4 linked regions of the Homo sapiens genome follow. The protein of the gene in region 1 interacts with the protein of each later gene in a pairwise test. Each region holds a gene or a part of one and is shown on either strand. Other genes may lie near its edges.

What was found.
Region 2: the proteins of DIP2A (region 1) and CEP44 interact in binary tests that used the Homo sapiens proteins (3 or more experiments, as listed by UniProt).
Region 3: the proteins of DIP2A (region 1) and IQUB interact in binary tests that used the Homo sapiens proteins (3 or more experiments, as listed by UniProt).
Region 4: the proteins of DIP2A (region 1) and ZBTB43 interact in binary tests that used the Homo sapiens proteins (3 or more experiments, as listed by UniProt).

The regions. Positions count from the first base shown.
Region 1 is NC_000021.9:46,453,400-46,462,805, forward strand, and holds the start of DIP2A (disco-interacting protein 2 homolog A), read left to right. Parts: upstream 1-5,491; 5' UTR 5,492-5,732; coding exon 5,733-5,823; intron 5,824-9,071; exon of another isoform or gene 9,072-9,123; intron 9,124-9,312; exon of another isoform or gene 9,313-9,364; intron 9,365-9,406. UniProt on the Homo sapiens protein: Catalyzes the de novo synthesis of acetyl-CoA in vitro. Promotes acetylation of CTTN, possibly by providing the acetyl donor, ensuring correct dendritic spine morphology and synaptic transmission.
Region 2 is NC_000004.12:174,285,979-174,295,105, reverse strand, and holds part of CEP44 (centrosomal protein of 44 kDa), read right to left. Parts: intron 1-9,127. UniProt on the Homo sapiens protein: Centriole-enriched microtubule-binding protein involved in centriole biogenesis. In collaboration with CEP295 and POC1B, is required for the centriole-to-centrosome conversion by ensuring the formation of bona fide centriole wall.
Region 3 is NC_000007.14:123,450,646-123,455,675, forward strand, and holds the end of IQUB (IQ motif and ubiquitin-like domain-containing protein), read right to left. Parts: exon of another isoform or gene 2,287-5,030; intron 2,281-2,286; coding exon 2,098-2,280; 3' UTR 1,548-2,097; downstream 1-1,547. UniProt on the Homo sapiens protein: Adapter protein that anchors the radial spoke 1 (RS1) complex to the A microtubule of outer doublet microtubules in axonemes. The triple radial spokes (RS1, RS2 and RS3) are required to modulate beating of the sperm flagellum.
Region 4 is NC_000009.12:126,808,040-126,815,347, forward strand, and holds part of ZBTB43 (zinc finger and BTB domain-containing protein 43), read left to right. Parts: intron 1-57; exon of another isoform or gene 58-153; intron 154-753; 5' UTR 754-876; intron 877-7,308. UniProt on the Homo sapiens protein: May be involved in transcriptional regulation.

The sequences.
Region 1 (9,406 bases):
GAGCCCTAAAAATGTTAGGATTGTAGCAGGCTCCTGGATTCCTGTAGGGTTTATATGCCACTCTCTGGAGCAGCTGTCTCCAGGATCTTCTGCACTTCTCATCTGGCTGATCAACATGTCACTGATGTAAAGGAACAATGTAATATTCTACAGGATGTCTAGGTGGTCCAGATCTCTTTGGATTACGACAGAGAGCAAGAGAAGTAACATAACCTTCCGGCAAAACTGCATTTTAATTCCATGCAAATGCAAAATGTTTTTGATCCCTGATAGGTACAGAAAAGAACAAATCCACCTAGTCAACAACTACCTACCATATCTGGCAGAGAGGCTATTACGGATACTTTTTTTTTTTTTTTTTGAGATAGAGTCTCACACTGTCACCTGGGCTGGAGTGCAATGGCATGATCTCGGCTCACTGCAACCTCCACCTCCCAGGTTCATGGGATTCTCCTGCCTCAGCCTCCCAAGTAGCTGGGATTACAGGTGCACACCACCACACCCAGCTAATTTTTTGTATTTTTAGTAGAGACAGGGTTTCACTATGTTGGCCAGACTGAACTCCTGACCTCGTGTTCCGCCCACCTTATCCTCCCAAAGTGCTGGGATTACAGGCGTGAGCCACTGTGCCCGGCCAGGGATACTTCTTAGATGAGTTTGCAGCAGTGTACCCAAAACAACTACTGGTTGACAGCAAATAGAGTAGGCTGCCATTCTCCAGGATCCTTGTGACTTCTGCAGGGGTCATGCTGGTAAATTAAAAATGTTGGTAACCACCACTTTACATCACTTGGATCCTTAGAAGTGGCACTTATCTCTGCCATTCCCGCTCTGGGATAATTGTTTTATAATCTTGGTAGGGGATGGGGCAGTTTCAGGTTTCTGTTTGGCTTTTTCCATTTTGTTATCTAACTCTATAGGTCAGGGACCTGGAATGAGCATTCACTGCCAAGTATGTCAATGCCAATTACTCACTCGAAGGCTAAGAAAATATCACTAGATCAGTCCACTAGGTCTACGGGTCCACTGTAAGCTGGACCTTTAGCAGAACTCCATCAATTACCTGGCCACCACATGCAGCCACTCTAACAGAAGGGGATGATATTCTAGGCATCTGGACATCAATTTAGACCCTGTGTCCACAAGTCTTCCAAATGTTTGGCTAATCACTTTTCTCCAGGATGTAGTTATCAAAAGAAATTGCTATCAGACCCTTTGGAAAAGTACCTGGGGATTCATTTCTGTTGTACTTGTACTGTTATAGGTCCTTCTTCCTGGTGTTTGGCCACCTCTCAAGTAATGTTTCCATTTCTGAAAACTGGCTCAGTTCCAGAAGCTGGGCATGGAATCCTGATTTTTTAAAACTGGGACAAGCATCTTTATTTATTTTTTTCAATTGAGACAGTCTTGCCACATTGCCCGGGCTGGAGTGCAGTGGTGCAACCACAGCTCACTGTAATCTTGAACTCCTGGGCTCAAGTGATCCTCCCACCTTAGCTTCCCCAAATGCTGAGATTACAGGCACAGGCCACCGTGCCTGGATGGATTTTTTTTTTTTTTTTTTTTTTTGCCAGCTGAGTAGTACCCTTCTTAGCTGCCCACCTGTTTTGCCTCCAGGGATGCCATGTTTATTGACCAGTTCTATAACCATACAAGTGAGGTCCCCTTGGCTGCCACTCAGACCCTGCTGGCTGCTATAATTGCAATCCTCTGACTTCTGCCAGCTAAGTGTTGCCTTTGGCTTCTTGGGTTTTTTTCTTTGGTCCCCACTATGTCCCAGAATGGCCTCTTTTGTCTTAGGATCCTATCATCCCCAGTGCTATCACCCAGCCAAGTTCTGGAACAGCCTTTCTATTGTCATTCTTGCCTACAGAGATGAGCCATCACTGAATATTTTAGTGACATCAGTGCCCCTTTCATCATCCTATGTCTAATGATCTTTATAAATGACGTGTTATTTACACCTTCATGTGGAATATGATCGTCTCAAATGTCTTCTAGATGCACGGAGTATATAAATTTCAACATGCCCACACCCCTGAACCTTTTACTCCCTTCCACCACTGTCTGCCATAGCAATTTTGCCATTTCAATTTTGCTTACCATGGCCCATGGCTTTTTCCAAGTGTGGTGTTTTAAAAATATACTGGCAAATTTTTTGATATTCTTCCCTTTAGAAGATGAAGCCTAATTCCTCTCCTTTTGAATATGGGTAATTTAGTGACTCATTTCTTCCAAATAGGAAGTAGCCGAAGTGATGGTATGCAACTTCTGAGGCTGGTTCACAAAAAGGATACAGCTTTCTTTTGTCCTTTGTCTTTAGATTGCCCTTGGAATCCAGCCATCATATTGTGAGAAAGCCTCGGCCACAGGGACCGGCCGTGTAGGGGTGTGCTGGCTGACATCCCCAATCTGGGCTGCAGCCAATCTCCAGTATCAGCTGTCAGACATTCGAGCAGATGAACCTTCACTCATTCCAACCTCTAGCCTCTGAACTGCTCCAGCTGAGGCCTCAGACACTGTGGAAGAGAGATAACCAATCCCCACTATGTCTGACCCACAGTAACCTAGAGAGATCACCGATCCCCACTATGTCTGACCCACAGTAACCTAGAGATAAGAAATGATTCTTGTTTTAAGCCACGAAGTGTGGAGTAATTTGTTAGGCAGCAGTAGCTATACCGCCATTCTAGGAGCCATCCTTGCAGGAAGTCTGCAGCCACTCTTTGCCAAGGTGTTAAATCACGTATTTCAATAAACACATCTATGCAAGTTTACATTCCAGCTCCCTTCATCAAGCACCCTCATAATCCAGCCCCAAACTTTCCCAGCTCCTGTCAGTACATGTTGGCTGGGTGGTACAGCTTGTTATGGGCTGAAGTGTGTCCCTCTCAAAAGATGCTGAAGCCCTAACCCCTGGTCAATGTGAATGTGACATTATTTGGAAATGGGTCTTTGTAGACAAGTTAAGATGCGCTCATTAGAGTGGGCCCTAATCAGTATGACTGGTGTCCTTCTAAAAAGAGGCCCATGTCGAATGACCTTTGTCAATGATGTTACTTATGCCTTCGTCTGGAGAGACACACACAACAAGATCACCATGTGAATATAAAGGCAGGACTGGGACAATGCCTCTATAAGCCAAGGAACCAAAGACTGCCAGCAAACCACCAGAAGCTGGGAGAGAGGCATGAGACAGATTCTCCCTCCCAGCCCCAGAAGGAACCAACCCTGTGAAAACTTTGATCTCAGACTTCTAGCCTCCAGAACTGGGAGACAATAAATGTCTGCCCAGTTTGTTACTGAAGCCCCAGCAAACTAATAACGCAGTTCTTCTGAGGGGGAGGGAGCTATATTCTCTTTTCTATCTCATTGTTTCCAGCTGAATAATGCAAAAGAAACAACCATAATTATACATCTACTGAGCAGTAAGTGGAGGGAGGAGGAGTAGTGTCAGGTTAATAGGAGAGGTGAGCCACCCCGGCAGGCTTCAGGTTCAAGGCAGGCCAGGTGTGATGGCTCACTGGAGCCTAGAAGTTTGAGACAAGCCCGGGCAACATAGCAAGACCTTGCCTCTACAAGTAATAAAAAATGTATCCAGGTGTGGTGACACATACCTGTAGTCCCAGTTACTTAGGAGGCTCAGGTGGGAGGATCGTTTGAGCCCAGGAAGTTGAGGCTACAGTGGGCCATGATCCAGCAACTGCACTCCAGCCTGGGCAACAGAGTGAGACACTGTCTACGAAAAAAAGGTTTAAGGCAGTTTGGGGAGTCAAAACCTTTGAAGGCATCTACCCAGGTATCTCCAACCCATGTATGACGGGCTTTTCTTTTCTTTCTTTTTTTTTTTTAAAAGACAGAGTCTCACTCCTGTTGCCCAGGCTGGAGTGCAGTCACAGCTCACTACAGCCCTGACTTCCAGGGCTCAGGTGATCCACCCACCTTAGCCTCCCAAGCAGCTGGGACCACAGCCGTGGCCACCATGCCCGGCTAATTTTTTGTGTTTTCAGTAGAGATGGGGTTTTGTCATGTTGCCCAAGCTGGTCTTGAACTCCTGAACTCAAGCAATCTTCCCGCCTTGGCCTCCCAAAGTGCTGGGATTACAGGTGTGAGCCACTGTGCCCAGCCTCATCTTTTCTTAGCAGGGATCCAAACTTAGTGGAAGAGTATTGCCTTGTTTGGGTGTTTTGCTATTTTTGGAGTTCAGTCAAACAGGGATGTTAATTCCTGGGCCTGGTTCTTGTCTTTGACCTGCTGCAGTAAATGAAGCTTCTCTATATGTAACGGGACAGATTCACTGGCTTACAACTGTTTGTTGCTTGCCTTCAGCTGACCACTATTCTTAAGAGTCTCGGTTGGCACTAAGCAATAGCTATCCAATCCCCCTTTCCTTCCTTTTATCTACTACGTTCACCATATATGAAATGTCTGATACTTCACCCACTCGTGGATTCCATTTCACTAGTTCACCCTCCTACTTCACCACTGGTGAGTGATGCAGCCTCGAATCCCATCTTCTCACCAGCTTTAATGCTGCAGAATGGTTTCTCCAGAAGCAGACGCTGCGACTGAGTTTGGGGTACGAGGATGTTGACATGGTATCAACACCCGTGAAAGGAAGGGGAAGGAAGCAGGACTGGGCGGAGGAAGAAGGGTATGTAAGTCCCGCAAAGCTTTGGCCAACCTCGTGTGGAGCTCTGGAACGAGAACTGCTGAAGTTCGCCAGACTCGGGCACTCCTGCCTAACTCAGTAACAGGCGGGCGGCATCGGGACACGGACACGCTGCTCAGGCCCCGCCACAGCCACCCTCGCACCGTCAGACACACTCCCACACATTCGGGGAGCAGGGCCTTCAGGACGCCGGCGGCGCCCTCTCAGTCTAGCTCCGCCAGGCCCCTCGTCCGTCCTCCCGCCCTCCAAGGTCACCTCGCGGTCCGACATGGCTGCTGGGGCTCCTTCGGGGCCAACGATGTGTACTTCTAGGGCTGTTTTTTAAAGCAAAGGAGTGAACACAGGTAAAGGCACGAGAAAGGTGCCTCGACGCCACCACGGACTGCGCAGCGTTCGCGATCAGCACAGCCCGAAAGGGAAGACAGCGGTCAACGCGGACGCGCCATGGCGCGGGGACCAAGGAGGAGCCCCGAGAGGGGCGGGGCTGGCCGGAGGGCCGCGCGCGGGGCCACCAGCGGCGCCTAGGGGTCAGCGCCAACGCCCACGGGTTGGTCATCCCCACTTAGGCGCCTCGGGCCGCAACTAAGCAGCCTGCCCGCCTCAAGCCCGCCACCCTCAAGCAGGCCCAGCGCAGAGCCTGTCGGGAGCGGCGCTCTCCCGCCTCTCCCAATGGGAGCCCGGAGCGGCATCGACGCGTCTTCGGGGCCAATGGAAGCGAGGCTCTGGTGTTGCTGGGCGGGGCCGGGAGGGCTGCGCGGGCCCGAGACCCACTGCGCACGCGCGCTCGCTACCCGCCCTTCCCGCCGCGCACGCGCTCCCGTGTAGGGCCGGCCGGGCGCTCAGGAGCGCGCGGGGCAGCGGCGGCGCGGCGGAGCCATCCGCGCTCGTGCCCGCGCGGGTGCGTTGCTGTCCTGGCCGCGCCCCTGTCCCGCCGCCTCCCGCTCCTCGCCTGGCGGATGTAGGTTGTTGGCCTGAGGGGAGCTACGTAGCCGAGGTTTGCGCTGCCGCCGCCAGGCCCGGTCCGGTTCCAGCCTCTGCCCGGACGCTAGCCGGCCTGGCCATGGCTGACCGCGGGTGCCCGCTGGAGGCGGCGCCGCTGCCTGCCGAGGTGCGGGAGAGCCTGGCTGAGCTGGAGCTGGAGCTGTCGGAAGGTGAGCCGGACCCCGCCCTCAACCCCCGCGACCCGCCCTCAGCCCGGTCCCCCGCGCAGCCCCTCACTCCGGGACCCCCGCGCGGCCCCTCACTCCAGGACCCCCGCCCTTCACCCCCGGGACCCCCACGCGGCCTCGCCCCTGGGACCTCTGCCCCTCAACGGGACCCCGGTTCCTCTACCCTGGAACCCGCCCCTCGCCCCGGAGACACCGTTCCTCAACCCTAGGACCCCGCCCCTCATGTGGGACCCCAGCACGACCCCTCGCCCCGAGACCCCGGCCCCTTACCCCCGGGAACTCCCGCCCCTCACCCCCGGGACCTCCTGCCCCTCACCCCCGGAACCCCGCGCGGCCCCTCACCCCGGGGACCCCGCCCTTCACCCTGGGAGCCCCGCGCTGCCCCTCCGGACTCCCGACCCTCAGCCCCGGGACACCCGCGCGGCCCCTCAAACCAGGGACCACTGCCCCGCCTCTCATACAAGGACCCCTCCCCCATACAAGGACTCCTCCCCCCAGGCCCTTCACACCTGGGACCCTTACTCCTCACCCCGGGACGCCTGCCAAACTTCTGGAGACCTTTCCCTATCCCCAGCTGCTCCCCCAATGGGATCCGACCCCAAGGACTGGCTTTGACTAGGTCGTTTGGACAGGTGTGAGAATCTTGAGAGGAATGACCACTTTTGCCCCAAGCTGTGAGCCCCGCTTTTCTCAAGGCTGTAGGTCTGGGCTTGGTCTGGGCTTCACCAGGATGACTGCGCCCGTTGTCCGCAGGCAGCTACTTCCCTTGGAGCTGGGAGCCCTTGCCGCGCGCCTCATACTCTAGGAGCTGCACCCTGTGCCTCATTTTATTATCTATAAAGTGGGGTTATACCAGCACTTTCCATTTTGGATTGTTATGAGGCTAAAATACCTTAATATATGCAAAGCACATAACACTTAGGAGTTGTTAGCCCCCTCATGGAATTTTTTAAAGTAAAAAAAAAAAGTCGTATAAATGGTTGGTTGATAAAAATAGACTGGAGTAATCTGGCTTCAGAGGTGGTGGGTGGCATTTCCCATTTGGATGTTATCCCTTTCAAGGCCTGTGTCCTGATATTCCTTTTGGCTGTCTTTGGGAAAGAGTTAAGTTCTTCTCCAGTGTCAGAAAGGACTTGCAGTCCTTGAAGAAAAGCATGTAATTGATTCTTACTCTGTTTTTGAGATCTAAATGCATTTTCAGCTTTTAGAATCCATTTTTTAAATAATCTTATTATCCTTAATTTAAGTTTCAGATTGATAAGATTTTGCTGGGTCTGGGGTAGTTATTTCTCAAAACATCTAAATAATATGCACTAGCATACAGTAAGTCATTTAATCCTTGCCAACCTTAGGGAGGTAGATGCTGTTGTGATCTTGTTTTACATATAATACAACATGTACTTGCAACTATTTTGAATTCAGCATTCAGATTTTTAACAATGTTGTGACATGTGGCACATTTTTTTTTTTTGAGACGGAGTCTTGCTCTGTTGCCCAGGCTGGAGTGCAATGGCGTGATCTCGGCTCACTGCAACCTCTGCCTCCCAGGTAGAAATGATTCTTCTGCCTCAGCCTCCCGAGTAGCTGGGATTACAGGGGCTTGCCACCACGCCCAGCTAATTTTCGTATTTTTAGTAGAGGCAAGGTATCACCATGTTGACCAGGCTGGTCTCAAACTCCTGACCTCAGGTGGTCCGCCTGCCTCGGCCTCCCAAAGTGCTGGGATTACAGGCATGAGCCACCGTGCCTGGCTTGTGGCACATTTTTAAAAATGGAAGTACAGGCTGAGTACACAGTGGCTCATGCTTGTAATCCCAACACTTTGGGAGGCCACGTTGGCTTGGAGACGGGAGTTCAGAACAGCTTGGGTAACATAGCAAGACTCTGTCTCTACAGTATTAAAAAAAATTAGCTGGGCATGGTGGTGTGCACCTGTAGTCCCAGCTACTTGGGAGGCTGAGGCAGGAGGATCACCTGAGCACTGGAGCACTCCAGCCTGGGCAACAGAGCGAGAACCTGTCTCTTCTCACCAAAAAAAAAAAAAAAAAAAAAAGGAAAGAAATGGATGGATTTGAGAATTCTTGGTGATTAGATGCTCCTAGGCAGTCTGACAAACTTAAATTAGGAATGGGTTTGACAGGATCTACTGTACTGCATTTGTTAAGGCTCTTTAGGGAAAATCACATATACGCAGTTTAGATTCTGTGCATTTCAAACATATTTTTGCGTATTGCTCCTAATTTCTGCTCCAATGTATTCATTATTCCCTCAATTTTTTGTGTTGTAGTTGTGTTTGAGTGCTTGCTAGGCATTGACAATTGAATCCTTTCCTCAAAGAACTTTATAATTTGTGCGACAGAACACAAGTACTTAAATGAAAGAAATGTTTCCTATCTGTTGGATCCATTTATGCTATTGTCATCTTAGAGATATGTAGGGGATGTATAGGTAAGTAAAGGTATAAGATTATGTAACATGGAGAGGAACCTCGAAAAATAGCTTAAGCTGAGAAAGGGGGTAAACAAAAAAAGTATTGAGCCCAGAAATGGTGGCTTAGGCCTGTTATGTTTGCATTTTGGGAGGCCCAGGCAGGAGGATCACTTGAGCCCAGGAGTTTGAGACCAGCCTAGGCAACATAGGGAGACCCTGCCTCTTCCAAAAAAAAAAAAAAATTGGCTGGGCATGGTGGTGTGTGCCTGTAGTCCCAGCTACTTGAGGGGCCGAGGTGGGAGGATCACCTGACGAGGTTGTGAGCCTTTATAGTGTCACTGCATTCCAGCCTGGGAGACAGAGTGGGACCTTGTCTCAAAAAAAAGTGTTAAAGGGAAGACAGCAGAGAACAGAGTAGTAGAGTGGCAGCCAAGGAGGTGGAAGCTCTGGCTTCTTGGCTTCTTTCCCTGCTCCTAGACTGGCCTGACACTTTTCTTTTGGCCAAAATAGGTCAGTGATTACTTAGGCACAGTCACACGTGGACCTGCTTCCAGGGCGCTTCCACAGGTTAATGCTGGCTTATGTAGTTTATGTGGTGGTTGTTGTTGACGTGGGCTCTCCCTGTTGGATTTGGAGATGCTTACTGGTAAGGACTTTGTTTTAGGCAGATTTTTGGCTTCTTCACACAGTGGTGGGCATCTGGTAAAGTGTCTGTGAATCTCCTGTGGATTACAATGTCTCTAAACGTGGGTTTAGTTAGCTGTAAAAGGGGGTGAATACCAGCTTTATTGACATTCCAGGTTTATTGTCAAGATTCAGTCACATAGTGTGTGTGAAAATGCTTCGAAACTGGTAAGGTGTTTTATTTATATAATTAAAGGGAGATATTAGTAATGAGTTATAGTCCTAAAACAACCAACATTAGTGTTTCATTGTTATAATTTTTATATATTGTCAAAATAGTGTAACTTTTTTATAGCATTCACATTTATCTAAGTGAGAAATTGCCTAAAACTTAAGAGTTGTCACTGTGCTTGGTAGGTTGGAAGAAGAAGCTTAACAGTGACAAAGATGCTGTCTTCAACAGAAACTGGTAATGAGTGATACCTGAATAATCTAGAAAATCCTGCATGCC
Region 2 (9,127 bases), on another chromosome or scaffold:
CGTCCGGGAGGGAGGTGGGGGGATCAGCCCCCCGCCCGGCCAGCCGCCCCGTCCGGGAGGGAGGTGGGGGGGTCAGCCCCCCGCCTGGCCAGCCGTCCCATCCGGGAGGGAGGTGGGGGGGTCAGCCCCCCACCCGGCCAGCCGTCCCGTCCAGGAGGTGAGGGGCGCCTCTGCCTGGCCGCCCCTACCGGGAAGTGAGGAGCCCATCTGCCCGGCCAGCCGCCCCGTCCGGGAGGGAGGTGGGGGGATCAGCCCCCCGCCCGGCCAGCCGTCCCGTCCGGGAGGGAGGTGGGGGGGTCAGCCCCCCACCCGGCCAGCCGCACCGTCCGGGAGGGAGGTGGGGGGGTCAGCCCCCCGCCCAGCAGGGAGGTGGGGGGTGGTCAGCCCCCCGCCCGGCCAGCCACCCCTTCCGGGAGGGAGGTAGGGGGGTCAGCCCCCCGCCCGGCCAGCCGCCCCGTCTGGGAGGTGAGGGGCGCCTCTGCCCGGCCGCCCCTACTGGGAAGTGAGGAGCCCCTCTGCCCAGCCACCACCCCGTCTGGGAGGTGTACCCAACAGCTCATTGAGAACGGGCCATGATGACAATGGCGGTTTTGTGGAATAGAAAGGGGGGAAAGGCGGGGAAAGGATTGAGAAATCGGATGGTTGCCATGTCTGTGTAGAAAGAGGTAGACACGGGAGACTTTTCATTTTGTTCTGTACTAAGAAAAATTCTTCTGCCTTGGGATCCTGTTGATCGGTGACCCTACCCCCAACCCTGTGCTCTCTGAAACATGTGCTGTGTCCACTCAGGGTTAAATGGATTAATGGTGGTGCAAGATGTGCTTTGTTAAACAGATGCTTGAAGGCAGCATGCTCGTTAAGAGTCATCACCACTCCCTAATCTCAAGTACCCAGGGACACAAACACTGCGGAAGGCCGCAGGGTCCTCTGCATAGGAAAACCAGAGACCTTTGTTCACTTGTTTATCTGCTGACCCTCCCTCCACTATTGTCCTATGACCCTGCCAAATCCCCCTCTGTGAGAAACACCCAAGAATGATCAATAAAAAAAAAAAAAAAAGAGGATATATGGATTGTAAATAATATGAAGAGGCTCAAAATCATTTATCATTAGAGATTTGCAAATTAAACCAAAATACCACTACACACTTATTAGAATGGCCATAAAGCCTACAAAAAAAACCAACAGCTAACACCACACTTAAGGCTGAGAAACTGTATACTTCCCCCAAAGACTGGGAATAACACGAGGATGTCCTATCTCACCACTCCTATTCAACAGTGTTCCAGAAGTCCTAGCTAGTGAAATGAAGCAAGCAAAGGAAATAAAATACCTTAGGAAGAAAGGAATAAAGTGGTCTTCATTTGCAAAAGACATGATTGTTTATTTAGGAAATGCTAAAGAATTAACAAAAAAAACCCCCTAAAAGTAAAAAGTGAGTATAGCAAAGTCACAGTATATAAGGTTAATATACAAAAGTCAAATGTTTTCCTATATACTGGCAATAAATGATTAGAATGAAATATAAAACTAAAAACACCATTATCATAGCACAAAAAACACTTATAAGTCTAACAAAATATGTAAATGATCTGTATGTGACAAATTACAAAACTATGAAAGAAATCAAAGAAGGTTTTAGCTAGAAAAGGATAGTGGAACAGGACCTCCCCAGCCCTTGTCCTTCACAGAAACACCAATTTAGCAACCATCTATGTATAAAAGTGCCCTGATGGGTCCAAGTAGAAGGCTGTGACATCCTTCTGGAGTCCAAGACTGATAGAAGCCATTTTGAGAAGGCAGAATCATGCCCCAGTAGCAGGCATGTGACTACAGAACTGGCTCCAGACCCAGCAGCAGCCTCATCAGCATGTGGGCTTCAACTCACCTGTCCAAGGTCTCACAGGAAGACTTGTTTGTCTGGGAACCCAGAAGGAACCACACCCACCCAAGCCCCAGTAACAGGCCCACAACCGCAGACCTGATTTTGAACATGTAAGCAGACCCACAACCTGGCTCCACCTAAGTGACTGTGGTTTGGAAGTCAGTCTCACCAAGGGACCCAGCAAGAGAAGATCTTCATCTACTGAAATCACTCTGTTTAGTACAGAAGTGGGAACTGCTCCTTCAAATGTACAGACACCAATGAAAGACTCAAGGGATTATTAGTAAATACAACATGCCAAAGGAAACCAATAAGGTTACAGAAACTGACTATAACAAGATGAAGATCCATGATCTGCTTGACAAAGAATTCAAAATAATCATCTTAAGCTCAATGAGCTACAAAAACAAACAAACAAATAAACAAACCCAGATAGAAAATGAAATAAAAATCAGGAAAACAATACATGAACAAAAAGTTCAATAAAGGAGAAGCATAAAAAAGAACCAAACAGAAATCCTAGAGCTGAAGGATACAATGACTGAACTAAAAAATTCAATAGAAGGCTTCAACAACAGACTCAATCAACCAAAAGAAAGAATCAGCAAACCTGAACACCGGTCATATGAAATTATACAATTAGAGGAAGAAATATTAAAAAGAATAAAAAGTGAAATGAAGTAATACTACGGGACTTATGGTACACCACTAAGTAACTTAATAAACACATTATAAAAGTTCCAGAAGGCAAAAAGACAGAGAGAAAGGGGGCAGAAAGCACATTTAGATTATGGCTGAAAACTTACCAAATCTAGGGAGGAAAATGGACATCCAGACTCACGAAGCCCAAAAGTTCCCAAATAGGTTGAAGCCAAAGAGGTCTGTACCAATAGACACTATAATGAATTTGTCAAAATTCAAAGACAGAGAAAAAATTTTGACAGCAGTGACAGAAAAGTAACTTATTTCATATAACAGAGCCTCCATAAAGGTATTGGTGAATTTCTCAGCAGAACACTTGCAGGCCAGGAGAGAGGGAATGACATATTCAACATACTGAAAGTAAAAAAAGAAACCTGCCAACTGAAAATAATTACCTGAAAAAACTGTCTTCAGGAATGAAGGAAATAGCCAGGCATGGTGGCTCACACCTGTAATCCCAGCACTTGAGGAGGCTGAGGGCAGGCAGATTGCTTGAGCTCAGGAGTTCAAGACCACCCTGGCAAACATGGTGAAATCTTGTCTCTACAAAAAATACAAAAATTAGCCAGTCATGGTGGTGCATGCCTCTAGTCCCAGCTACCTGGGAGGCTGTGGTGGGAGGCTGACTTGAGCCCAGGAGGTTGAGGTTGCAATGAGCTGAGATCATGTCACTGCACTCCAGCCTGGGCAACAGAGCCAGACCTGGAAAAAAAAAAAAAAAAAAAAAAAAAGAAAAGAAAAAGATAAAAGAATAAAGAAAACATGAAAACTTCCTCAGATTAAAAAACTCAGGGAGTTTGTCACTTTTAGACATGCCCTAACAAGAAATGCTAACAGGAGATCTTCAAGTTAACTGAAAAGATACTAAACCAACAGTATGAAAGCATATGAAAGTATACATCTCACTGCTAAAAGCAAACATGAAAACAAACATGGAATATTGCAATACTGAAATCTGTGGCACGTAAATCTCATTGAACACTAGTATATAAATTAAAAGACAAAAATAGTATGAGTAACTACAACAACCACAGAAATTTGTTAATAGAAACAATATAGAAAGAAGTAAAATCTGAAATCAATTACATACATTGGTGAGGAAGAGGGGGGAGAAGTGTAGAGATTCTGAATATGAATGAAGTTGTTACTAGCTTTAAAAAGCCTGCTATGACTACATAATATTTGATGCAAACCCCATAGTAACCAAAATAAAAAGTATAGTAAATAAACAAAAAAAAGAAAAAAATCAAAGCATTCTACTACAATCATCAAATCACAAAGACAACAAACAAGAGAAAAACAGGAGAAACAGAAAGCAAATAGAAAACAATGAATAAAATGGAAACAATTAAGTACTTAATTATTAAAAATTATTACTTTAAATTTTTAATAATTAAGGGCTCTCAGTAGACATGGAATGGCTGAAATGGATAATAAAAACAACACTCAACTATACGCTATCTACAAGAGACTCTAACATTTAAGGACACACGTAGGCTAAAAGTGAAGGGATTGAGAAAGATATTCCATGCAAACTATAACCAAAAGAGAGCAGGGTGGCTATCTATATCAGACAAAATAGACTTTAAGTCGACAACTGTCAAAAGAGACAAAGAAGGCATTATATAATAGTAAAAGGGTCAATTCAATAGAAAGATACAACAACTAAAAATACATATGCACCCAACATCAAAGCACCTTAAAATATACAGTGAACATTGACAGATTTGAAGGAAGAAATAGATATCGATACAATATAGAAGGAGACTTTGATACATCACTCTCTATAATGTACAGGTCATCCAGACAGAATGCCAACAGCAAATATTGATAGAATTGGAGGAAGAAATAGATATCAATACAATACAGAAGGAGACTTTGATACGTCACTGTCTATAATGTACTGGTCATCCGGACAGAATACCAACAAGTAAATTGCAAACTATACAACACTATAGACCAAAGACCTAACATGCATATACAGAACATGAGACCCAACCATAGCAAAATAATCATTCTTCTCAAAAGGACATGAAACATTCTCTATAACTGATCACAGCCTAGGTCACAAAACAAGTCTTAACAAATTTAAGAAGACTAAAAACATTCTAAACATTTTGTCTGATCACGAGGGAATGAAACTAGAAATCAATAATAGAAAGAAAATGGAAAAATTCACAAATACAGGGGAATTAAATAACATACTATTAAATAATACTGGGTCAAAGAATAAATCAAAACAGAAATTATAAAATATCTCAAGACAAACAATAATAAAAACACAGTATACCCAAACATATAGGATGCAGTAAAAGCAGAATAAGAGAAGTGTTTATAGCAATAAATTCATTAAGAAGAAGAAAGAGGCAGGACACAGTGGCTCACGCCTATAATCCTAGCACTTTTGGGGGCTGAGGCAGGCGGGTCACTAGGTCAAGAGATTGAGACCATCCTGGCTAACATGGTGAAACCCCATCTCTACAAAAAATACAAAAATTAGCTGAGCATGGTGGTGCGTGGCTCTAGTCCCACCTACTTGGGACTCCCACCTACTCGGGAGGCTGAGGCAGGAGAATCACTTGAACCCGGGAGGCGGAGGTTGCAGTAAGCCAAGATCATCACGCCACTGCACTCCAGCCTGGTGACAGAGCAAGACTCTGTCTCAAAGAAAAAAAAAAAAAGGTCTCAATAAAACAACCTAACTTTACACCTCAAGGAACTAGAAAAAGAACAAACTAAATCCAAAATTAGCAGAAGGAAGAAAATAATAAAGATTAGATTAGAAATAAATGAAATAGAAAATTGAAAAACAATTTTAAAAATTGACAAAACTAAAAGTTCCTCTTTTGAAAAGACAAACTAAATCAACAAATCCTTGGCTAGACTTTAAAAATAGAAGACTCAAACAAAATCAGAAATGAAAGAGGACACAATTGATCCCACAGATATAAAAAGTATCATAAGGGACTATTATGAACAATTATATGCCATCAAATTGGACAATCTAAAAAAAAATGGGTAAATTCCTAGAAAAATATAACTTACCAAGACTGAATCAAGAAGAAATAGAATGCTTGAATAGACAAATAACAAAAAAGGAGATTGATGGAATAATCAAAAAATTCCCAACAAAGAAAAGCCAAGAGCCAGATACATTCTAGCAAACATTTAAAGAAAAATTAATACAAAACCTTATTAAACATATCTAAAAAAAAAAAAAAAAGAAGAGGGAACACTTCCAAAGTCATTCTGAGGCCTGCATCACCCTGATACCAAAGCCAGACAAATACACTACAAGAAAACTACAGTCTAATACATTTGATGAATATAGACGTAAAAATCCTCAATGAAATGTTAGCAAACCAAACACAACAGCACATTAAAAGAATCATATACCATGACCAAGTAGGATTTTTCATTGTGATGCAAGGATGGTTCAACATATGACAACCAACCAATGTAATATACTGCATTAATAGAATGAAGGATAAAACTCACATGGGCATCTGCACAGATGCAGAAAAAGCACTTGACAAAATTCGATACTCTTTTGTGATAAAAACTCCCAATAAACTAGGTATGGAAGAACCTTATAGCAAATTAGGTAAAGGAAAAACAAAATAAAGTCCATTTATGAGAAGCCCACAGCTAAGATACTTAAAGATAAAAAACTGAAAGCTTTCCCCATAAGATGAGGAACAAGGCAAGGTTGCCTACTTTAGCCTCTCCTATTCAGCGTAGTATTTTAAGTCCTAGCCAGAATAACTAGGTAAGAAAAATAAATTAAAAACATCCAAATAAAAAGAGAAGAGGTACAATATCTGTTTGCAGATGACATGATCTTAGATGTAGAAAACCTTAGGGACCCCAACAAAAATGTGAGAATAAACAAATTTGCCTTTAAAAAAGAAGGAAATCCTGCCATTTGCAACAACATGGATGAACCTGAAGGACATTATGCTAAGTGAAATAAGCTAAACACAAAAAGACAAATACTGTATTATCTCAATGTATGTGAAATCTAAAATAGTCAAATACATGCAAGCAGAGAATAGAATGGTGGTTGTAAGGGAACATGGGGAGAACAAAATGGGAAGCTGTTGTTCAAAGGGTACAAAGTTTCAGTTAGGCAAAATAAATAAGATCTGCAGGTACAACCCAGTGTCTGTGATTAGCAATATTGTATTCTTAAAATTTTGCTAAGAAGTTAGATCTAATGTTAAGTGCTCTTATCACAAAACGTGAAAAAAAGATGAGTAGAAGGAAACTTTTCAAGGTGATGGCATTGATTTCTTGTAGTAATAATGGTTGGATGGTTTCACAATATCTACTTATCTCCAAACAGAAACTGTATACATTAAATGTCTATAGCTTTCTGTATGTCAATCATACCGCAATAAACAGGTTAAAAAATGAAGCAGCACCAGATCCCTGTACACACACCTCTAAAAATAGTCCCTTTGTATATAAAGCACCCCAAATTTTCTCCTTCTGAGTGTGTTATCTACTTAATTAAGGGCCTGGACTACAAAATCCAAGTTTTCACTTTTCACCCAAAGTTTTCCATTCTCACACACAGAATTTTCTCGTTCAGTTAGCAGATGCAAGAAGAGAATTTCAGATATTAGCTTTAAATACTACATTCTTGTCTATACCTGGTATTACTAGCTCTACCTAATTCATTTTCTTTCTTACCATGAAATTATAGAAACAAAAAGGTTACTGCAAAACACTTATAAACATATTGTCAGCATGAAATAATTATAATTATCCTATAATAAATTGTACCTTTTGAACAATTTTGGTCACTTTTTGATCTTCGTGTATTAATAAGTTAATACATGTAAATCATAACCAGAAGGGAAAATCAAAACATTCCACTTACCAAGTAATGATGAAAAAGAGAATGTGTGTGATTTAGTTAATTTAAAATATTATAGAAAGCAACAAATAACAGAAATGGTATCTGGGATAAAGTTCCTGGACCTGGATAAGGATGTTTGGTGATATCTCAAGCTGTTCAACACCTTTGCACATGCCATTTCTTCAAGCTTGAAGAGATACAGAGCAACTCCTTCCCTCTCCCATTCTCCATCTGGCTAATACCCCTCGGCATCCTGCTTAAATGTCACCACCTCAAATAAGTCTTAGATCCCAAACTAATTAATCCCCCTCATTAATTTTCTCTAATAGACCCAGTTCTTTTCCTTCTTGGTACTTATCATAATAAAGAACCAAAATCTGTGCCAAGGGTCCAAAATAGCACTCTACCTGAAAAGCAACACTTAATCCTTGTCATTTCTCAGCTCTATTTCAGAATGAGCTGGGTTACTACCTGGGGTCCCATAACGACCTATATCCCAATGGCCTAGAAATAGAAGGAATACACCGATTCCCCCTCTTGATGCTGATTCTTCACTTTAATAAGCCACCACCATTGTCAGTCAAGATGTTTTGCACTGTCATCGGTCCCAAACTCCTGCTGGTTAGCCAGCTGTCTACTTCCAAGAAGAAAAGGTGAACACAGAAAAAAAGGCAAGAAATTCAAAATATCTATGCTTTTTACAGAAAGAGTAAATGGTACAATTATTTTGGAAAACTTACTGGTGATACCTACTAAAAGCTGACATACATGGGGCCTATGAAACAGGAATATGACTCTGAAGAATGTACACAACAGAAAAACACATACGTGAACCAAAAGATTTGAACGAACTGAGACTTTAAACAAAATGATTCATTTTTTAAAAACTGCCCCAAAAGTAATAGCATGGAATTTATTTCTAAATGACTAATTTTCTTGCATGGAGTGGGACTTTCATTAGATTATCAAAGGAGATTTTTCCCAAAGAAGAGTCATAAATAGGTATATAAACGATTAAGAACCTTTGCTGGAAGGAGGTAAGTTTCTGAACTATAAAAGTCTAGTCAGCCAGTAACGTGAAACTCAATAACTTACATAAAAACATCTACCACAACTGTCCATGGACACTTCATAGAAGAAAAGTAATACATAACAATACCTTGAGTAATGAACCCTTTGAGAATGAAGCTCCTTTAAAATGAAGTTATCACATTAAAATGAAGTCATTATATTAAAATGAAAACAGAACAATTCATAAATCAGGTGAAGCTGGGTTAGTGTGATCTTTTCCTCCAATTCGCATTACCCAGCTGTCCAGGATACAAATCATCCCTTTACACACCGTTTCTCTATCTTTAAATAAGGAAAGGTAAGAAGGTCACCGATTTACAAAATCCTAAATTTAGTAAGCTTCCTACTTTAAGCCCCTCGCCACTCATTTCCACAGCCATTTCCCCAGGGTAGAGCAACTGCTCCCTCTTTATGAACCTACCTTTCTGTTCCTAGTCTCCTTTATCAACATGGTAGGCAACAGCTTATTGAATATACTTTATAGACTTGTGCATGCACATTTTAGTCACTATTTTTCAGCCAATAAATTACTTCAACTAAACATTTACATTTCTAGACAGAGATAATTTTAGGTACTGTCAAATGGGAGATAACTAGAAAAAGAG
Region 3 (5,030 bases), on another chromosome or scaffold:
TGTGCCCTTCCCCCAGAGGTGGAGCCTACAGAGGCAGGCAGGCCTCCTTGAGCTGTGGTGGGCTCCACCCAGTTTGAGCTTCCAGATTGCTTTGTTTACCTAAGCAAGCCTGGGCAATGGCGGGCGCCCCTCCCCCAGCCTCGGTGCCACCTTGCAGTTTGATCTCAGTCTGCTGTGCTAGCAATCAGTGAGACTCCGTGGGCATAGGACCCTCCGAGCCAGGTGCGGGATATAATCTCCTGGTGCGCCATTTTTTAAGCCTGTCGGAAAAGCGCATATTTGGGTGGGAGTGACCCGATTTTCCAGGTGCTGTCTGTCACCCCTTTCTTTGACTAGGAAAGGGAACTCCCTGACCCCTTGTGCTTCCCGAGCGAGGCAATGCCTCGCCCTGCTTCGGCTCGTGCACGGTGCGCGCACCCACTAACCTGCGCCCACTGTCTGGCACTCCCTAGTGAGATGAACCCGGTACCTCAGATGGAAATGCAGAAATCACCCATCTTCTGCGTCGCTCACGCTGGGAGCTGTAGACCGGAGCTGTTCCTATTCGGCCATCTTGGCTCCTCCCCCCGCCCTGATGTTTACTTTCTTAAAAACTGCCATGTGCTGTGCTCTGGCTAAGTAAAGAAAAATTTTAGCTATCCTACAAAATGTGTGGCTGAAATGTTGTCAAATATTTATATAGAACAAATATTTAAAAGTTCTTGATAACTAAACTTGATAACTGGATAACTAAACTTGAGAGAAGAGCCTCATTAATTGCTGATTGGAATTAGGAGAAAAATCATATGTTTTATGTATATATAACTATGTTGTGTGTGATAGTGAGTAAAATATTGCTATTTGATTATAGATGTTCACTTTTAATTCTTTCTCCATTTGGATACTTTCTATTTAGCCCTCCAGATCTACTCTTCCCCTTACATACTCTGCTCTTTGCCTTGAAGCCCTAAAAATTATGTCAACTGACTCCTACCCCTTCTGCTTTCCTTTTGGGTTTGGCCAGCGGGAAACCCAAGCAGGACATTGGAGAAAGGAAGAAGTATGAAATTGTATATTTCTCTAGTTCATGAGATTCCCCTATGCCTGGCCGTTCCCTTTACAGCTGGTCATTGATCCTTTCAGTTATCTTCTTTACACTCTTCCTGGGTTCTCAGACTTTCTCCCCAAGTTCATTTGAGACTAAAGGGAGAGATAGCCTGTCTGATACTAGCCCTGGGTTCCTGCACTATTCTTTTAGTTTCCCTACACACTACCCACACCTTATAATAAGGCCCTTTGTAAATAAACTCTCCTTGGCTTAAGCTATTTCGAGTGTGCCATCCATTTCCTGTTAAGACTGACTGGCAAACCATTGTTCATCACTGTAGGTCCCTAACTTATATGTGGTCAAGGTCACTCCTTTGGTTTATTGGAGAAGGGCGTTGTTATGGTTTATTTAACCAGTTTATTCTTCTTATAGTTTCACCATTGCCCACAGGGAGTTTTTCTTGCATATGCTAATAGCTCCATTGTTTACCCAGAATGAAGGTTTTTTGTTTATTTATAAATAGTTTCAAGTGTTGTTTTATTGGGATTATGAGAAGGATGGAAGGTGAAAGCAGACGATAAACTGCAAAGATTCAAATGCCTATACTAAAATATAAATTTTTTTATCCTACTTAAAGAAGTTTTCAAGAAAGAGCACTTTATAATGTTTCCTCCCCTCCACATACTGATTAGCTTCCTATAACTACATTCTATCTAAAATAAATAACTTGAAAGTTGTCTAGTTTTTATTTGGCTGTTTGTTAGATTTTAACTCTAATATACTTGAAAAAATTTAAAAAATTTAATGTGAAAACACATTTTAAAATGTTTTCTTTACCCCAAAATATTAATTTCAGTAACAAAATTGCATTTCAATTTAGCACCAACTTCCTAACAAAGAATACTTACTTATATAGAAATGTTTTCTCTTTATATAACTCAAAATACTATGAAAAACAAAAAACAAAATCAATAAACAGATTAAATTCCATTTCCATACTCTGTGACCTCTGTATTACCCTATTAGCAGTGAACAAAATGCCGATCATCAAACAAATACTCCTGGATCACCTAATGAGGAGGCCTCTGGGATTCTATAATCTTAGGTGTTGTGTCTGAGTGATACTTCCATCTGATCTCATCAATTTCACCATCATCAAGTATAAATGAAGCCAGCACTGGAACCTGAGAAAAATAGTTCTTAGCCAGGATATGTTTGTGTTTGATCTTGTGAATAAATGAGCGTTCATATCCCTGCAAAGAAAAAAATCAAATTCTAGTAAATATCACAGATATATTTTGCCAGGTAAAAATACTGTCATGCCTCGGTGCCTTTGCTTGTCAATTCTTTCATCCCAGACTACCTTTATTTTTCTCACGTTGTCTATCATCATTCACGACTCAGCTCCTATGATACTTTAACCTGGAAGTTTTCCCCAACTCTCCCTCTGACTTCTCTAAGTTTAAACCACTGCTAGTTATCAACTCAATATTCATTCTTTCTCCCATTTGAGCCAGAGGCCTGATTTTGTATAGGGTGTGATGTGTCTAGCTTTCTTAGCCCTTATTCTAACTGGGGGTATCTAGTTAGAATATATATATATATATATATATTATTAATGTTATAGATATTGAGGTGAGAAAAAACAAAAATAAAAACAAAACAAAACAAGGGAAGTCTGAGAAACTGTCACCACCAAGAAGAATCTAAGGAGATAACTAAATATCTTCCAAGATTATTTAATTATACACAATATATATAACCTTATATAATTATATATATATAATTGAATAAAGCCTTTGAAAGGGACTTTTGAGAGTGGGAAGACTCACCTATCAAGCACCTCTAGCCTTTTGCCATTACTGAGAGGTACATGTAATGAAGAAGATGAACTAGCTATCCTATCACTAAGAGCCCACCAAGCATGAGAGAGAAAGCTGAAGATTAAATATGGCTGAGGAAAAAGTGAGATGGCCTGAATTTCTGAGAACAAGGTGGAGCCACCATACTAGCCCCAAACTGCCAACCTTTGAACTTTCTTGTTACATAAGAAAACTAAACCCACATTTGATTAAATCATTATAAATTGCTTTTTCTGTTCTTGTAGCTGAACCTAAATGCAACTGAGACAACAAAAAGTTATATTCATTAAATTTTCTTGTTTCTCTGTAATTACTTAGTACAGTATTTGGCACATTCAAAAGTAAATTCTGGTTAAATTAATAAATATAATCTATTACCTATTAATCTTAATTGGCCCTCTTTTCAATCAAATCACAAATACTACCTATACTTCTTCCTAAAATTTATTTTCTGAGAATAAGACATTCCCTCAATAAAGGTCTCTTCAGAGGGTCAAATCAAAGATAAAAGAAAGTCCTGGGTGAAAGGACCAAAAGAGCAGAAAACATTATATAGGAGTATCCTGGGCTTATTAAAATTTCCTCTTAACAGAAAAATTTACTAGGTTAAAATATTCATCTTTTGAGCTAATCTAACTTTGTTTCTACCACTTCTTAGCCCATATTTCATTCAAGAAAAACTAACACACTTTATTATGCTATATTAACTTACACATGTACAGAACTTTATAGGTTTTCAAGGTGCCTTTACAGTACTATAAATTATTAAAGATGAGATAAATTATGATATATGTGTTCAAGGCACTAATAAGTAACTCTTAAATAACTGAATATATTTCCATATTATATTATTTATATTGTTAAGTAAAGCAAAGAAACTAAGTCTCAGAGTCATTTAATATGAAATTCCTGCTACAGTAAAAGTATATATACTTACATACACATAGAAAACTTCCAGAAGGATTTCAATAGATTATTATATACCTAAGAAATAGTAGTTATCATTGCAACATGGAGATAGGGATGGGTGGACATCAAGAGACCTTTTTTCCCATTGAAATAAGGTCCATTCTCTTGAAATAGCCATGTGATGGTTTTAAACTATGTTCACAAATTCTTTGGGTGTACAAATAGTTCTAAGAATATTACAGAAAGGTCCCATATACCCCACACCCACATTTTCCTGAATGTGTCTCAATCTGGGTTTGTCCTGTGTTTTCTTCATTATTATTAGACTGAAGGGATGGGTTTTGGGGAGGAAGACCACAGGGGTGAAGTGCCCTTCTCCTCACATCATATCAAGGGTACACACCATCAGCATGACAGCACTGCTGCTGTTAATCTTGATTACCTGGCTGAGGTAGTGTTTGTCAAGTTTCTCTACTGTAAAGGTCCTCCCCTTCCATCCATAATATAGTCTTTGGAAAGGAGTTATTATGTACAGCCCACATTTAAAGGGTAGAGAGTTATTCTCCATCTCCTTAAGAGTGGAGAGTATCTACATAAATTATTTGGAATTCTACATGGGAGATTTGTCTATTTGCCTCCCTTTATTTATTCATTCAGTCGTTTTTTAAATTTTTTAAATTGATAATAATTGTACATATTTACGGGGTACATAGTGATGGGATGATACATATATCATGATCAGAGTAATTAGCATATTCATCTCAAACATTTATCATTTCTTTGTGCTGGGAACATTCGATATGCTGCGTCTAGCTATTTGAAACCATATATTGTAATTAACTATAGACAACCTACAGTGCCACAGAACAGTACTAGAACTCACTCCTCCCATCTAGCTATAATTTTTGTATCCTTAACAAATCTCTCCCTGTTCCCTCAACCTCTGAGACCTTTACTTTCTACATTACATTTTTTATTCTGTTCAGATTCTAAGCCAATAATATATTGCTTTAAAATTAAAAATAAAATGCATCAAAAATTTTTAAAGTGCTTTCATAGTTACTACCTAAGTTTATTCATGCCAAAAAAAACTATGCAGAAAGCTTTAAATAATGGCCTACTCAAAGCTTCCCTATGATGAGATACCATTATCTCTTTTTTATAGACGAGAAAGCTGGGTCATTGAGACATTCACAAATTTGTCCAATTTCTCCCAGCTCATGAATGGTAAA
Region 4 (7,308 bases), on another chromosome or scaffold:
ATGTTGTTAATTTCTTGAAATGAGTACTGTTTCTGCCTTCTGCTTTCTTGATTTCAGCTTCTTATCCTGAATTCTAATGCACGTGAGGGTACAGTTAAAAACATTTCCTTGGCTTTATTGAAATTCAATGGAAGGATGATCGATAAATGGGGGGTTAGTTTCTAGAACGTTACCTTCTCTTTTGAATCTCAGAGAGTTTGCTGTAATAGAATGTTTGTCCTAGAAGTTTTTAAGTAAAACATTCAGCCGTGGCTTAAAATTGAAGGGAATCATGAATCAAACTTCATAAAGCAGGTGGCTTGTTTTTTTAAAAAACATCTTAAAATAGTTTTTACTAAGTGATTTGGCCAAAGTGTTCTAATTAGGAAAAAAATGGAAGAATACTGATTGACAATGGTCAGGAGACCAATAGCACTGTTCCAAAGGATATATTAATTCTGCAAAATTACATAGTCATTGACCATGTTTTCTAGTTTTAATGAATATGCCACAGTAATGGATGAGAGGTATATGGGAGTTATGCACTATCTTTTCAGTTTTTTTGAAAATTTAAAATTATTACAAAATAAGTTTGTTTTTTTAAAAAATACAAAAGCAGGAGCTATGAAGTTGCAGAATGGAATTTAATATAACCAAAAATGCCAGTCTTGATTACTTTTCTTTCTGCCGCTAATGTACATCTCTAGTGTTTATTAGCAAATACACGTGTACATAGCATCTCTTTTACATTTTCACTGTTACTCTTCCTTCCAGAAGTCAATGTGATTTTAATTTGAAGCAAAACTGAAATGGGTTCTTCTTCCTCATTCTATTCATGTTGCTTTTTGATGGCCATGGCATAAGGAACTCTATCCCAGGAATACAGCTTTGCATTAGGTAAGCTATCAACTTGATCACGATACCATTTTTAAAGTTACTTACTGTAATCATTTCTCTTTTAGCAAAAATAATAATGTATTTTGTTAAGATTTTTAATTCCTCTAGACCAGAAGATTCTTTCTTCTCTTCTGAAGAGATGTTACACCTTCTAAGGCCCATCAATGCCATACTTTGCACTGATAGAACATTTAATGTCAGATAAATTTTTCTGCCAAGTGAATTTTTTTTCTTAACTTAGAAAAATGTTAGATTTGGAGTTATACTGCTGTTTGAATGCTGACATGCCATTTCTGAGACGTGTAACCACTGGCAGGTCTTTTAATTTGAGCTTCAGTTTACTCATATTTCAAAAGGATGCAATGATACGGGAGTGTTGCACAACGCAGGTTTACATAGTGTGCTTTGTGAACTCTAAAGCATTTCACTAATGTAAAGAGTAGGCATAGGGTATTGGTGTTTTTGTACATTTGTGCCAGGCTTTAAATTTACTGAAGCAACATTTACTATGTTTAAATATGCTTTCTATAGTAAGCATGCAAGTTACCATATGCTCTGATTAAAGAAACCTCTGAAGGACTTCACAATAAGTAGCTGGTGGGTCTGCTTCCCTATTATATTGCTGTCATCTGTGTTTTTAGGATGTTTAATAGGTGTTTAAATCACGTATAAAATTTGACTTGGAGTTCCTCAGCCGAATAATAAATAGTGGCTGTTATTAAACTCATCAAAGTTGGAAGGAATCTTGAAGGTCATCTAGTTCAGGATTTCTTCAGTATGTTGCCCTTCATCTGCGTTAAAAAAAGCCAAATAGCTTTTAAGAAGCATAGTGGAACAGGCTGGCATCGGTGTGTTTGTTTTAGAACTGTTGCTATTGGATTAAAAAAATAAAATACATGTGCAAAGTGGCATAAAACTGCTGGTATCTTTTTTTTTTTGAGACAGAGTCTCGCTTTGTCGCCCAGGCTAGAGTGCAGTGGCAGGATCTCAGCTCACTGCAAGCTCCACCTCCCAGGCTCAAGCAGTTCTCTGCCTCAGCCTTCAGAGTAGCTGGGATTACAGGTGCCGGCCACCACACCCGGCTAATTTTTTTGTATTTTTAGTAGAGATGGGGTTTCACCATCTTGGCCAGACTGGTCTTGAACTCCTGACCTTGTGATCCACGGGCCTCAGCCTCCCAAAGTGCTGGGATTACAGACGTGAGCCACCGCGCCCGGCCCACTAACTGCTGGTATCTTATTAAGGTTTTTGTTTGTTTGTTCATTTGTTTGTTTATTTGTTTGTTTGTTTGTTTTTGAGATGGAGTCTCGCTCTTGTTGCCCAGGCTGGAGTGCAGTGGCAGAATCTCCGCTCACTGCAACCTCTGCCTCCCAGGTTCAAGAGATTTTCCTTCCTCAGCCTCCTGAGTAGCTGGGATTACAGGCATCTGTCAGCATGCCCAGCTAATTTTGTATTTTTAGTAGAGACAGGGTTTCGCCTTCTTGGCCAGGCCAGTCTCAAACTCCTGACCACAGGTGATCCACCGTCTCGTGCTCCCAAAGTGCTGGGATTACAGGCATGAGCCACTGTGCCCAGCCGTCTTTTTTTTTTTTTTTTTTTTTTTTGAGATGGGGTCTCGCTCTGTCACACAGGCTGGAGCGCGTGGCGAGATCTTGGCTCACTGCGACCTCTGCCTCCCGGGTTCAAGTGATTCTCCTGCCTCAGCCTCCCAGGTAGCTGGGACTACAGGCATGGGCCACCATGCACAGCTAATTTTTTTTTGTACTTTTAGTAGAGAAGGGGTTTCACCATGTTGGCCAGGATGGTCTCCATCTTTTGACCTGGTGATCCGCCCGCCTCGGCCTCCCAAAGTACTGGGATTACAGGAGTGAGCCACCATGCCTGGCTTGGGCCATCTTAAGTCTAAGGATGGTCAGCGTGCGAAAGTTTGTGAATGCATTGTATATAATAAAATTATATAGATTATTTGTGAAAATGATATTCACGTTTACTTTCCATACTCTGAAACTATAGTGATATTCACAGCCAGGCACGATGGCTCATGCCTGTAATCCCAGCACTTTGGGAGGCCAAGGTGGGCAGATCACATGAGGGTCAGGAGTTCGAGACCAACCTGGCCAACATGGTGAAACCCCATCTCTACTAAAAACACAAAAATTAGCTGGGCGTGGTGTCACGCACCTGTGGTCTCAGCTACTCAGGAGGCTGAGGCAGGAGAATCGCTTGAACCTGGGAGGCGGAGGTTACAGTGAGCTGAAGTGGCACCACTGCCCTCCAGCCTGGGCGACAGAGACTCCATCTCAAAAAAAAAAAAAAAAAGAAGAAAAAATTATATTCACCTTTTCTTTCCACCTCTTAAGCTATAGTGGGCCTGAACAAGTACTTTGGATTTAAATCTCAATTTTACTGCTTACCAGTTATATGACCTTAAGTTGCTTAGCTTTTTTGTCTATCTCCAATTCTGTACAATGGAAGTAAAAAATACCTATTGAGTGGGTTGCTGTGAAGATTAAGTGAGACAGAGCATATAAAGTGCTTTGCATAGACTTTGTACAATGTCTGTATTAAGCAGTTTATATATTTGTATATGTATGTCATAAATAGTAGTTGCTGTTATTTCCTATTAATGATGACATTTTCCTAGTCACTCAGTCATGAAATTCAAAGTCGGCATTGGTACATCAGTTTGCCTTGCATTACTCTTTATTTTATTTATTTCTATTTTTTTGGGATGGAGTCTCACTCTGTCGCCCAGGCTGGAGTGCAGTGGGGTAATCTTGGCTCACTGCAGCCTCCGCCTCCTGGGTTCAAGTGATTCTTCTGCCTCAGCCTCCCGAGTAGCTGGGACTACAGGCACCCACCACCACACGCAGCTAATTTTTGTGTTTTTAGTAGAGACGGGGTTTCACCATATTAGTCAGGCTGGTCTCGAACTCCCGACCTTGTGATCCACCCACCTCGGCCTCCCGAAGTGCTGGGATTACAGGCGTGAGCCACCGCACCCGGCCACATTACTCTTTTTTAAACAGCTTTACAGAGACATAATTCATAAGTAATAAAGAGGTTTTTTTTTTGGTATATTCACAGATTTGTATACCCATCACCACAATCTAATTTTAGAACTTTTGTCTCCCCTCAAAGAAACCCAGTTAGCAGTTGCTCCCCATTTCTTCTACCTGTAGCCACGAATCTACTTTCTGTCTCTATGGATTTGTCTATTCTGGACATTTCATATAAGTGGAGTCATACAAGATACGGCCTTTTGTGTCCGACCTCTTTCATTTAGCATAACGTTTTCAAGTGCCAGCCGTGTTGTCACATCTATCAGTATTTCGTTCTTTTTTATTGCCAAACATCCTATTCTAAGGATATATCCTGTTTGTTTATCCAGTCATAAGTTGATGGAGCTTATGATGGTTTTCACTTTTTGGCTTTTAAGAATAATGCAGTTATGAACATTCATGTACGAGTTTTAGTGTGGACATCATATGTTTTCATTTTTCTTGGGTATGTACCTAGGAGAATTGTTGAATTAACGTGGTAACTCTATGTTTAACTCCCTGAGGTGCTGTCACACTGCTTTCCACAGTAGCTGTACCATTTTACATGCCCACCAGCAATGTATGGAGGTTATAATACCTACACATCCTCACCGACACCTGTTATTGTCTGTCTGTCTTTTGACAGCCATTTTAGTGAGTGAAAAGGGATGTTTAGTAGTTTTGATTTGCATTTTTCTAATTACTAATGATGTTGAGTGGTTTTCATATGCTTATAGGTTATTTGTATATCTTCTTTGGAGAAATGTCTCTTCAGATCCTTTATCTGTTTTTCAGTTGGGTTATTTATCTTTTTATTATTGAGTCATAAGAGTTCTTGAGGTATTCTGGATGCAAGTCACTCATTAGTTACATGATCTGCAAATAATTTCTCCTATTCTGTGGGTTGTGTGTTCACTTTCTTGATGGTATCATTTGTACCTTGTACTACTGCTGTATCTTCCTGCTGACCAGTTCTGTCAGTCTCATCAATGCCACCCCTTTTCCATACCCACTGTTACTTTTTTTTTTTTTCTTTTTTTTGAGATGTAGTTTTGCTCTTGTTGCCCAGGCTGGAGTGCTTTGGCATGATCTCGGCTCACTGCAACCTCCGCCTCCCAGGTTCAAGCAGTTCTGCTGTCTCAGCCTCCCGAATAGCTGGGATAACAGATGTGTGCCACCACGCCCGGCTAACTTTGTATTTTTAGTAGAGACAGGGTTTCACCATGTTGGCCAGGCCGGTCTGGAACTCCTGACTTCGAGTGATCCACGTGCCTCAGCCTCCCAAAATGCTGGGATAAAAGACGTGAGCCACCATGCCTGGCCCCACTGTTACTTTTATTACTACCTAGACTACACTTATTGAAATCCTATAATTAGCTTCTACTTCAGACTTTCTCCTGCTTTAGTCCGTCAGCAGATCAACCTTCCTTAACCATGCCTCACAGCACGTCACTTAGAAGTTTTCAGTGCTGCCCCAATGTAGACGTCTCATTCGGCTTTTTCTAGATTTATCTCCCATCACTCATTGTCACTCATAGAAGGAAGCACAAGTAATGATGTGTGTGTCACCAGGGTTAGTCTTGAGTGAAAGAGAGCCGAGGGAGATCTGAAATGGCTTTCTGATGGTAATTTCACCATAATCTAGGATCTTGCCGTTAGTGTGATTGGACCAATAACTCAGTGTCTTCAACATATCATACTTATGATGTACCAAACCCGCAAGAGATTAAAGTATACAAACCAGAATGCCATGTGATTTATAATTTTTCTTTCTATGTTAATAAGTGAGATTGGCTTGTAGGGTTTTTTTTGTTGTTGGCCAATTTTGATACCAGAGTTTTGTATAAAATTTATGAATTTTCTCCTACCCTATTGCCTTGTCCTCTTCTCCCCCTCTACTTTTTACATTTCTAGTTTTATCATATTGTGTAATCCATTGTATAGTCACATGTAATCAAATGTGCCCTGTGCATTTCCGCTTTGGAGAATTTATTGATGTTCTCTGTAGCCACGTATATTATCATTTTTGTAAATGTCCTACAGACAGTAGAAAAGGAGTATTATTTGTAGAGTATATAGGTATTGCATTAAATTAGCTTTATTGATAGCTGTCTAAACCTATAGATTCTTGTCCTTTGCCTACTTGATTTATTAAGAATTAAAGAGGGATACTTATATTTCCTGCTACAATTACAGTTCTGTTACTGTTGCCTTATTTTCTAACATTGTACTCTGACACATAAAAGTTCACAGAGTAAACTTCATTGTGAATTATAGGTTTCATCAGTTAACAATAAACTTTCATCCTGATTTTTACAGATGAAATTTACATCTGTAAAATTTTTACAGATGAAATTTACATCTGTAAAATGTAAATTTTACATCTGTAAAAATTTTACAGATGAAATTTACAAAGTAAATTTACATTGAAATTTACTTTGATATTAGTATTGTGTTGCTTGACTTTTGTTTTCATGTGACTTTTTTTTTTTTAAACTTTTGACCTTTTTGGTGATAAATTCTTTCAACTTTTCTATGTCTGAAAAAGTATTTTGGGCCGGGCGCGGTGGCTTACGCCTGTAATCCCAACACTTTGGGAGGCCGAGGTGGGCAGATCACGAGGTCAGGAGATCGAGACCATCCTGGCTAACACAGTGAAACACTGTCTCTACTAAAAATACAAAAAATTAGCCGGGCATGGTGGTGGATGCCCGTAGTCCCAGCTACTTGGGAGGCTGAGGCAGGAGAATGGTGTGAACCCAGGAGGCGGAGCTTGTAGTGAGCTGAGATTGCACCACTGTACTCCAGCCTGGGCAACAGAGCAAGACTCTGTCTAAAAAAGAAAGAAAGAAAGAAAGAAAAAGTATTTTGCCTTCACTTTGAAGATACTTTCATGGGTATAGAATTCTAAGTTGACAGGCCTTTCCGCCCCCTCCCCCACCTTCATTTCAGTATTTTAAAATGGTCTCCTGTCTCCTGGCTTGCATTGCTTCTGAGGTTCTCTGTACACAAGGGGCCTTTTTTTTGTCTGGCTGCTTTTAAGATTTTCTCCACTGATTTTAAGTGATTTGATTATGATGTGCCTTGCTGTAGTTTTTTTCATGTTTCTTGTGCTTGGAGTTTGTTGAGCTGCTTAGGTCTGTGAGTTCGTAGTTTTCATCAAATTTGAAAAAGTTTTGGCTGTTGTTTTCACATATGTATAAAATGTATGTGTGTATGTGTGTATTGTTTATATATATAGTTTTCAATATATAAAACTATATATATAGTTTTCAATATATAAAACTATATATATATAGTTTTCAATATATAAAACTATATATATATAGTTTTCAATATATAAAACTATATATATAGTTTTCAATATATAAAACTATATATATAGTTTTCA